Linked DNA regions of Homo sapiens. The protein of the gene in region 1 interacts with the protein of each later gene in a pairwise test. Each region holds a gene or a part of one and is shown in the gene's direction. Other genes may lie near its edges.

What was found.
Region 2: the proteins of GTF2H2C (region 1) and DZIP3 interact in binary tests that used the Homo sapiens proteins (3 or more experiments, as listed by UniProt).
Region 3: the proteins of GTF2H2C (region 1) and NR5A2 interact in binary tests that used the Homo sapiens proteins (3 or more experiments, as listed by UniProt).

The regions. Positions count from the first base shown.
Region 1 is NC_000005.10:69,563,160-69,566,916, forward strand, and holds part of GTF2H2C (general transcription factor IIH subunit 2-like protein), read left to right. Parts: intron 1-1,940; 5' UTR 1,941-1,973; coding exon 1,974-2,029; intron 2,030-2,971; coding exon 2,972-3,049; intron 3,050-3,429; coding exon 3,430-3,466; intron 3,467-3,757. UniProt on the Homo sapiens protein: Component of the core-TFIIH basal transcription factor involved in nucleotide excision repair (NER) of DNA and, when complexed to CAK, in RNA transcription by RNA polymerase II.
Region 2 is NC_000003.12:108,592,618-108,596,374, forward strand, and holds part of DZIP3 (E3 ubiquitin-protein ligase DZIP3), read left to right. Parts: intron 1-3,757. UniProt on the Homo sapiens protein: E3 Ubiquitin ligase proteins mediate ubiquitination and subsequent proteasomal degradation of target proteins.
Region 3 is NC_000001.11:200,044,570-200,048,326, forward strand, and holds part of NR5A2 (nuclear receptor subfamily 5 group A member 2), read left to right. Parts: intron 1-873; coding exon 874-1,015; intron 1,016-3,602; coding exon 3,603-3,757. UniProt on the Homo sapiens protein: Orphan nuclear receptor that binds DNA as a monomer to the 5'-TCAAGGCCA-3' sequence and controls expression of target genes: regulates key biological processes, such as early embryonic development, cholesterol and bile acid synthesis pathways, as well as liver and pancreas morphogenesis.

The DNA.
Region 1 (3,757 bases):
TCTCCCAAAGTGCTAGAATTACAGATGTCAGCCATCATACCCGGCCTGGTTTTTTTTTTTTTTTTTTTTTTTTGAGACGGAGTCTTGCTCTGTCACCCAGGCTGGAGTGAAGTGGTGTGACCTTGGCTCATTGCAGCTTCTGCCCTCCAGGTTCAAGGAATTCTCCTGCCTCAGCCTCCCTAGTAGCTGGGATTACAGGCACCTGCCACCATGCCCAACTAATTTATGTATTTTTAGTAGAGACGGGTGTTGCCATGTTGGCCTGACTGGTCTCGAACTCCTGACCTCAGGTGATCCGCACCTTGTCCTCTCAAAAGTGCAGGGATTACAGGGATGGAGCCACTGCACCTGGCCCTGGCCTGTGTTTGTTTGTTTTGTTTTGTTTTCAACTTTTATTTTCACAGAGTACGTGTGCATGTTGGTTACATGGATAAATTGCTTGTTGTTGAGGTTTGGTATACAAATGATCCCGTCACCCTGGTAGTAAACATAGTACCTGATAGGCAGTTTTTCAACCCTCACTCTTTCCCATCCTTCCCTGTCTAATAGTCTCCAATGTCTGTTGTTCTCATCGTTATGTCCACGTGTACTCAGTGTTTAGTTTCCACTCGTAAATGAGAACATGCCGTCTTTGGTTTTCTGTTGCTGTTTTTTTTAGGCCAGAGTGCAGTGGCACGATCTCGGCTCACTGCAACCTCTCTGCCTTCCGGGTTCAAGCAATTCTCCTGCCTCAGCCTCCTGAGTAGATGGGATTACAGGTGCTCGCCACCACATCTGGCTAATTTTTTTCTATTTTTAGTAGAGACAGGGTTTCACCATGTTGGCCAGGCTGGTTTCAAACTCCTGACCTCAGGTGATCCACTTGCCTTGGCCTCCCAAGTGCTAGGATTACAGGCGTGAGCCATTGCGTTGGGCCTCTGTTCGTGTTAATTCGATGAGGATAATGGCCTCCAGCTGTATCCATGTTGCTGCAAAAGACAGGATTTCATTGTGTTTTTTTTTCGTTGTTTTTTTGGCTGCTAGTATTCCATGATATATTACGTACCACATTTTCTTTATCCAGTCCACCATTTATGAGCATCTAAGTTGATGTGATGTCTTTGCTATTTTGGATAGTGCTGTGATTAATATGAGTGCTCTTGTACTTTTGGTAGAATGGTTTTATTTTCCTTTGGGTTTATACCCAGTATTGGGATTGTTGGATCGACATACATGTGTCCAATAAATGTATGAAAAAATGTTCAACATCACTGATCATTAGAGAAATGCAAACCAAAACCACAATGTAAATCAAAACCACAAACCCATCTCACCACCAGTTAGAATGGATATTATTAAAAAGTCAAAAAATAACAGATGTTGGCAAGGTTGTGAAGAAAAGGGAATGCTTATCCACTGTTGGTAGGAATGTAAATTAGTTCAGCCACTATGGAAAGCAGTTTGGAGATGTCTCAAAGAACTATGTTTAATTTTGTGTCCTTTTTTTTTGAATTATGAGCTATAGCATTTACCCATTTATAAATAATAAATGTGATTTAAAAACTTTTGATTATGAGAAAATTGAGACATACACAGAGAGATAGTACAATGAATCACATGTCACTCAGCTATAATAGTTCAACTACGCCCATACTGACTCCTCACAAGTCTACAGTTTGTCATGTGACACATCTATAAAGCATTTTTGTTCTTTTACAAATTGTAAAAAGACACTTATTTTTATTGGTACCAAGTTTGTGTATAAGTTCATATTATTTCTTGGAAATGAGAAATGGAGTTCTATGAAGATTTTTAAGACAATTATTGAGTAAAATACAAAGAATAAGATGACCTGGCATTCCATTTTTTTTACTTTATATATGTGTCTAATTTTCAAATTTAATTGGATGAATTTTGTAACAAACATCTTTAGATAACTTACATTCTAATGGTTTTTACAGATTATTGAATAATAAAATACAGTTTTGAAAAAAATGGATGAAGAACCTGAAAGAACTAAGCGATGGGAAGGAGGCTATGAAAGAACATGGTAAGGAGAGCTTTATTGCCCTGTCTTTTCTTTTAGACAATGTCTTTTTTTTTCTTTACAACTTTATTAAAGTATATTTTACATATGTTAAAATTCACCCATTTCCAATGTACAATTCAGTGATGTTTTATTAATAATTTACTGAGCTGTGCAGCCATTATCATAAACCAGTTTTAGAATATTGTAACCACTCCAGTAAGATCCTTCACATTCATTTACAATTAATTTAAATCTTAATTTAATTCCACCTGTGGGCAATCATTAGTCTACTTTTTGTCTCCAAATTTTAACCTTTTCTGGACATTTCACAAAAATGTGATCATATACAATCATGTGCCACATAATGATGTTTTGGTCAAAGACAGACTGCATATATGACAATGGTCCCATAATATTATAATACTGTATTTTTACTCTACCTTTTCTATGTATGTTTAGATATACAAATACTGAACATTGTGTTACAGTTGTCTTAAGATATTCAGTATAGTAACGTGCTGTACAGGTTTGTAACCTAGGCGTGGGATAGGCTATACCATCTAGGTTTGTGTAAGTATACCCTGTGATATTCACACAATAATGAAATTGCCTAACAATGCATTTCTCAGAATGTATCCCTGTCAGTAAGCGATGCATGACTATAATAGTTGGTCTGTTGTGGCTGGCTTTCACTTATTTTTAAGACTCATCCATGTTGCAGTGTGTATTAATACTTCATTCCTTTTTTATTGCTGAATAGTATTCCCATCTATGGTTATGCCACATTATTGTTTATCCATTCACTAGTCTGTGGATATTTAGGTTCTTTACAGTTTTTGACTGTTAGGAAAATGCAGCCATGAACACTTACATGCAAATCTTTGTGTGGACATATATTTTCATTTCATTTGGGCTAGTAATCATTTTAGCTTGTCTTTTCAAACAAATAATTATGACTTATAGGGAGATTCTTAAAGAAGATGAATCTGGATCACTTAAAGCTACAATAGAAGACATTCTATTCAAGGCAAAGAGAAAAAGGTATGTAACCTTCCTACGTATCTTAAAAAGGTAAAATATATTCATTTTAAGCCTTTCTATCTATAAATACTCCTCAGTACTTCATTTTAGCTGTGTTTCAGGGAAACTGACCTATTGCCTTCTGACTATGGGGAAAGAACTAGCCACCTACCCTTGCCCCAGCAGGAAATGGTCTTTAGAGACTGTCTACAATACCTATAATTATGTGTATTGTATTCCATAAGTTAATTATTTACTCCACTAAAAATGCACGTTATGACATTCTTAATCAGAATTAGAAAAAAAGAAAAACAAAGGAGGTCAATTGGAAAGTTGTATTTTTTTTTGTGGGGGGGGATAGTATATGGAATTACATTAAAATGTTTGTATAATTTTAACAGAGTATTTGAGCACCATGGACAAGTTCGACTTGGAATGGTATGTCATTATTTTTTCTTTTACTAGTACAGAACTAGTTTAGGTTAGAGAAACATTCTGTCTTGCTAGAAAAAACAATAGCAAAACAACAAAGTTTTTAAAAGAATATGTTAAAAATACGTGCATAGAATATGTAATTATTAAATGCCATTTTTACTAGTCAAAATGGCACTTGAGGCTGGGCACAGTGGCTCATGCCTATAATCCCAGCACTTTGGGAGGCCAAGGCAGGAGGATTGCTTGAGCCCAGGAGTTTGAGACCAACCTGGGCAACAGAACGAGACCCAGTTT
Region 2 (3,757 bases), on another chromosome or scaffold:
CCTGGGAAGTCAAGGCTGCAGTAAGCCATGTTTGCCCCACTGCACTCCAGCCTGGGCAATGTGGGCAACAGGAGGGAGACCCTGTCTCAAAAAAAAAAAAAAAAAAAAGTATTCAGGTTATATTTTATGTTCAGTGAGATTTTATATAGTTTGTCATACTGTCTTGTTCCATTCTTATTATGTTTATTTATCATTACGTTTATTCTAATAGAGATTGGTTTACTTAGACTTTCTGCCTATATATCATCTGCAAATAATTACCTCACCCCTTCCAGTATTTGTTGTCTTACATTATTGCATTAGTGTAAGCTCCAAAATATGGAAAATCATGTTAACTTTGAACAGCTTTTTTACATAATTTAATGAGAATGAACAGTGTTTTAACACAGTATAATTTGTGCTATTGGCTTTTGATATTCATCATGTTTAAGAGATTGGCTTTTATATCTGTTTCATTCTAAAAAATGTCTGCCAAAAATTATCCAGTTTTCACATTTATATATTTTATTTTTCACTTTAAAATTATAACACAGTGGATTATGTTGCCTTTTTGTTCTTGGGATAATAATAGTTTACACTTATTGAGCATTTGCCATGTGCCAAGCACTGTCCTAAGGACTTTCTACTTACCTATCTAATCTTTATAACAACCCCATGCTGTAGGAACTATTATGATTTCCATTCTAGAGATGAAAAAACTAAGATAGGAAGGGGAAGTAATTTGCCCAAGGTCACGTAGACAGTAGTAACAATCCTATGTTTTTCTTTGCTTCAGGTTTTGATTTGCTGGTATTTTATTCAGGATTTTATTATATACCTGTTCATAAGTGAGCATTTTCAGTAATATTTTTCTTTATTCTCACATCAAATTTGAATTATATGTTACCATTGAAAAAGAAATTGGAAGTGTTTCATCTTTTTTTATGCTATGGGATAATAAGAATCATAGAAATTATCTGATCCTTGTAGGCTGTACACAGCTGTCTTGTAAAATCATTAAGCTTGATAGCTTATTTAGTGGTAGATGGTAGAAATTTAGCAAATATTTGAATTTCTTTCTTTTTTTTTTTTTTTTTTTAATATGGTTTCACTCTGTTGCCCAGGCTGGAGTGCAGTGGCATGATCACGGCTCATTGCAGCCTTGACCTCCCCGGGCTTATCTTCCCACCTCATCCTCCCTGGGAACACAGGCATGCCCCGCTATGCCAGGATAATTTTTCTATTTTTTGTAGAGATGGGGTTTCACCATGTTGCGCACGCTGGTCTCGAACTCCTGGTCTCGAGTGATCCGCTCGCCTCAGCTTCCTAAAGTCCTGGGATTATAGGCATGAGCTAACATGCCTGAGCTTGAATTTCTAGTATAGTTACGGATCTGATCATTTATTCTGCCTTTCCTTAATTGTAGATATAGAGCTTTTTAGCATAATAATTGCTTCTCTATATTAAAAATTTACCGATAAAAAGTTGCATTCAGCATTCCAGTAATTCTCTTAATCTCTTAGTAGTTTTAAATTTCCATTTTCATTCTAATGTTATCTATATTTTTTTCTTAGTTGGGCTTTCCAAGGGTTTGTCCATTTTATTCAGCTTTTCAAGAACCAACTTTCATTTTATTAATTCTCATTTTTCTTTGATTTCAGAATCACCACTGTTGTCTTTATTAATTTCATCCGTATACATTCATCTTTTATTTACTTTGTTGTTTTTCTAGGTTTTTAAAAGTTGAAGTCTTAGTACACCTAGGTTTTTAAAAGTTGAAGTCTTAGGACATCTCTCTCTCTCTCTCTCCCCCCTCCCCTCCCCCCTCCCTCCCTGCTCCCCCCCCATATATATATAACTTTCAAGTTTGGGGTACATGTGCAGGTTTGTTACATAGGTAAACTTGTGTCATGGGAGTTTGTTGTACAGATGACTTCATCACCCAGGTTTTAAGCCTAGTACCTGTTAGTTATTTTTCCTAATCCTCTTCCTCCTCCCACCCTCTGCCCTCCGATAGTGCCCAATGTGTGTTGTTCCCCTGTATGTGTCTATGTGTTCTTTCCGTTTTGCTCCCATTTATGAGTAAGAATATGCGGTATTTGATTTTCTTGCATTAATTTGCTAAGGATAATGGCCTTCAGATCCACGCATGTTCCTGAAAAGGACATGATCTCGTTCTTTTTTATGGCTGCATTCCTTAGTATATTTTTAAATAAAAATCATTTATTTTATGCCATGTATTTTATATTTTGGTTTTGTTTTGTGTTTTTTTCTTCACAGCAGAAAGTAAAGGCTAATAGACCAAAAACTTTTAAAAAGACAGTAGCTAAAGTAAACATCTCCATTTCACTTAAAAAATGTATAATAGTTTTAACCAGTCAGGTAAATACATTTTTAAATGCTAATAGTCATTTATTCATCAAATGTTTATTGAATGCCAGTTCTTTTTCAAAGAGATTAGATTTTGTTGGTGAAATAGACAAACCAGAATAAGTACTGTTAAGAGAAATAGAATACTGTGGAAACACATGGTATTTTTTAGGGTAAAATATTAAGTATCCACTTCCTTCATTCTTCAAAGATTAGCATAAAATTTCTCTTTGTGATTTTGTTGTTGTTGTTGTTGTTGTTTTGTAGGGGAGACAGCATCTCACTTGGTTGCCCAGACTGGAGTGCAGTGGCATGATTAATAGCTTATTGCAGCCTCTAGCTCCTGGGCTCAAGTAATCCTCCCACTTTAGCCTCTGAGTAGCTGGGACTACAGGCATGCACCACCACACCTGCCTAATTTTTAAATTTTTTTTAGAGACAGGGTCTTGCTATGTTGCCTAGGCTGGACTCAATCTGCTGGCCTCAAGCAATCCTGCCTCAGCCTTCCAAAGTGCTGGGATTACAGACATGAGCCACCACACCCACCTGTAAAGTTTTATTACTTGTCTGTACTTTAGATTTTGCATAGATATTTTCCGTAATTTATAGTTTCAGAAATACACCTGATGGAAGTAAATAACACTTGCTCGGCATCTTGTAACTCAAATTTAGGGCTGTCTAGCTCCTTTATTTCTTCTGGAAAAATCTAGAAAGAACATATTGTCTTCTATCCTGAATATATAATCTCTAGTAACCAGGGTTTAAGTAATAGTAGATGAATTAGACTGAATGAAGACTTGAATTATAGCTTTGACAGAACTGCAGAGTTTGCAGAATACTAAGTTTTGTAATATGGGAATTATACCGGGGTGTGAACACAGGGCTAATTGTTCATTCATTCATCTCCTGTATATTTAATGAACACTTGATGCTAGGTCCATTTCTAGGTTCTGGGAATACAGCAATGAATCAAATAGACAAAAATTTCTGCCCAAGTTGTTTTCTTATAATGGAGGATATAGACAATAAGGCATATAAGTAAAATTACATGAATGATAGCGGTAAGTATTAGGGAGTGAAAAAAGGGAGGAGGAATAGGAAGTATCAAAGTCAGGATAAGGTGTTACAATTTTAGATAGGATGGAGTACTAATTGATGTATGCCAAATAACAAATCACCTCAAAACACAGTGGTTGAGACCATGAGCGTTTATTTCTTGCCCACAGATTTGTGGTTGACTGCAGTTTGTCTGCTCCAGGCCTGATTTGACTGGGTGGCTGTGCTTCAGCCTTTTCGTGGAGAGGGGCAGATACCTGGATTTCTATTTAGGTTATGTTGTGATGTTAGACATCCAGGAGAGATTGAGTAGGCTATCAAATTACTGGTAGTTAAAGGAGCGGTCAGGGTT
Region 3 (3,757 bases), on another chromosome or scaffold:
AATATTCACTATTTTTCAAAGTTTTTTTTGTTTGTTTGTTTTTGTTTTTAAGTGGAAAACTCAGTACAATTACTTAAACCACCACCAGGAAAATCCCTCCATTCTCTATAACAAAGTAAGAATGTTTCTCTTTGTGGCAAGTGGGTTAAATATGAATACTATCCTGGTAAATCTCATATTATAAAGCTACACATTTTATTTTTGATTAATTCTTTTATATAAAATATAAGGAAAGCTCATACCCTGTGTGCTACAATTCAGCTATCTGTGATACATGCTTTTTCCTTCCATTAGTTTTGCCTTTTTAAGAACAGTTCCCATACTTGAATGTATTCCAGTGGAATTATGAGCATTTTCCCATTTTACTCTTTAAATCCTTTTGCTTTTAACTATCCAGTGTTGACATTTGTTAAAAAAAAAAAAAAATCTGAGGTGTTTTGCTATTCAGTTTTTTCCACTGGCATTTTGCAATGGTTTATCACTGAAATTATATCAGACTACTTAAAAACAATGCCAGGACTTCATGAGTACCTCTATCAGGAACATGTGGGATAATAGGAAAATAGATTAAAAAAAAATTTATCTATATAGAGTGTATTTTTTCTGACTGTTGGGATAAAATGGTGGGTAGCCAAATCTCCCCAGGATTTGACGTAATTCTTCAAGAATAAAACTGATGCCAGAAAAATCTCCACCATGGCCTGGCACAGTTTGGGAAGGTTGATGTTGCTGAAATGTAAAATAAACCACAGAACCACATAAGGGCTCAAATAGTGCAATGAGAGGATTTACTGGTGATTTTCTTAAAATGAAACAATGGAAAAGACGGGTGTTAGATTTATAATACGTCTCACTATTTTCTCTGTCTTATAGGGATTTTTTAAGCGAACAGTCCAAAATAATAAAAGGTACACATGTATAGAAAACCAGAACTGCCAAATTGACAAAACACAGAGAAAGCGTTGTCCTTACTGTCGTTTTCAAAAATGTCTAAGTGTTGGAATGAAGCTAGAAGGTAAGATTCTTCTAAAGACTACTGCCTATTAAAACTCTCCAAGGACATGAACTGTAAAACAACATTGTACTTATAGCATGGTAACATTATTTTCCCAGCATTTTAACACTACCGACAATACTGTAAGATCTTTCTATGTTTCATCTGCAGAATAGTCTGAGTCTCATTTAATCATGGTGAAATCTACTAGGAAAAAAATTTAAAATATTAGTTGTCTTTCCCCTGCCCACCCCCTTTTTTTTAGTCTGGGGAGCAGATGCATTAGACACAAAAAAGGGAAAAAGATCAGGTTATGAAAATAAGACTAAAGCAATCCAACTGAAAACAAGAATAATTTGTAAAACTATTAAAAGTAAAATATTCTTTGAGTTTTTAAATCAAGATACCCTTGGAAAAGTTTGATTTCAATTCTTTTTAAAAGAGGTGTGCTTGTCACAAGTGTTAACTACTAATTTCATGATTCTTAAGAGTTAAAGCCTTTAATGGTGAAAAGGAGTTTCTCATGTAGGATATTATCTTTGATAGTGTAGAAATGTATTTTTTTAAAAGATAATGACTGAGGCTGCAAAATAAAAAATTGAGAATCAGGAAACATGAAAAATAACGAACTATTAAATCATTAGCAAAGGTCTGAAAAGAACAAGAAAGTGGCTCCTGAAAAGCCACACTTGAACTTTGTTGAAAGAGCAGACCCTATACTACAATGTACAGATTGGCAGGCAGTAAAGTTAATATGTGACTGCTGTAAATAATTTGTAGTTCATGGACTACTATGGTATGTTGCTGCTTTCTAGCCTCTGACCTGCTTGCTTTCCATGGATTAAATATACTGCAAATAAAGCAATAACAGGGATACATATCACCGATGGTGCTAGATACAAGAGTGCATTTTATTTGATCAATGAGGCACAGGCTATTTTTATTTGGAACTTTTCTGTTATATGGAACTCATACTTGATAGAAATACTAAAAAAAAAAATCATATAAATCTGCTGAATAGCTAACACGCTTCTTCCGAACAGAGGTAGCCACTTTGGTTATTATGAGGACTGTTAATGTCAGTATCATTTTTAAGAGATCATGAAAGGAAATAATTGATGCTTATTAATTTTCTTATTACCAATCACTATTATTTCCCAAATAGCAAAATATTGTGGTAGATGCTTACTACATACAGTAAGAGACTCAGAAGATAAGTAAATGTTGTGATTTTGCATGATGTCATTTAATTCCTTTTCAACAAAAATAATAAGGCTGCATTTCTTTACCTTAAATAATTAAACTTTCTTTTTTTTAAGTTAAGCTTTCACAATTGTAAATCACTTGTGGTACATGCTCATGCTTCCTTAGGAGTGATATGAAACAACTGAATATTCAATAAATTATCATCCAGATGAAAAACTCTTTATAATCTTGTGCAATATTCTGTATACTTAGAATTTACAATAAATTTTTAATGTGATACTAATCCAAGATAAAAAGCTCAAAAACTTAACCTCCAGCAAGTTCAATATGTCACAAGCTATCAGAGGTCTCTAGTTTCTGTCTAATTGCCATTGGCCACTATGGACTTAGAGGGAACTGCTAACTAACTTATTAGTCATGGCCGCAGACTCCACACACCACTGTCGCAGAAGACTCTCTTGACAGCTTCTGAAATGAATTTGTTTTAATTATGTCCAATTCTACTTAAATTAAAAGCAGTAACTGGTGGTCATCTGATGTGGGCTCATCAAGTCCAGGTGAACATGATTTTCCAAGAACATGTCCCCACCCCTTTTGTTATTGCAACAAGGTGGCCAAAATGGCTTTCAGGGAGGAAGGTATCTTGTGGGAAAGTATTCACAATTTAATCCAAAATTGGGTAACTCAGTTCCACACCCCTGCAAAAGAAAACCCCAAAGCAGTTTGGGTTTCCATAAGGAACTGGCATAATAAAAGCATATACTCTTAGTAGAACGACTGATACTCTTTCTTAGCAATGTGAAATATTTCTTTTCTTTTTTTTGAGACAGGGGTTTCACTCTTGTTGCCCAGGCTGGAGTGCAGTGGTGTGATCTTGGCTCACTGCAACCTCCACTTCCCGGGTTCAAGCGATTCTCCTGTCTCAGCCTCCTGAATAGCTGGGATTACAGGCACCCACCACTACGCCTGGCTAATTTTTTGTATCTTTAGTAGAGATGGGGTTTCATCATGTTGGCCAGGCTGGTCTTGAACTCCTGACCTCAGGTGATCCACCCGCCTTGGCCTCCCAAAGTGCAGGGATTACAGGTGTGAGCCACCGCACCACGCCTATGTGAAATATTTCTATGTCTAACAAAAATTATGAACTCTCCTCCATCCACAAAAGGGTTAATATGTCCCTATGTGGCCAAAGTATTTTTTTGATGACGACACACACTTGGAGGAAGGAATTCATAAATAAAGAGGACATGGTTTTTTGGGAAATCTTTGTGGGCTATTGTAACGAAAACAACCACACACATACCACTTCTTGTCGATTTACATTTCTAAATATCTGAAGAATGCTAATAATTTGCACCTTATTTATACCTTTCCTTCCTTCCCCCCACCCCACCCCCAACAGCTGTAAGGGCCGACCGAATGCGTGGAGGAAGGAATAAGTTTGGGCCAATGTACAAGAGAGACAGGGCCCTGAAGCAACAGAAAAAAGCCCTCATCCGAGCCAATGGACTTAAGCTAGAAGCCATGTCTCAGGTGATCCAAGCTATGCCCTCTGAC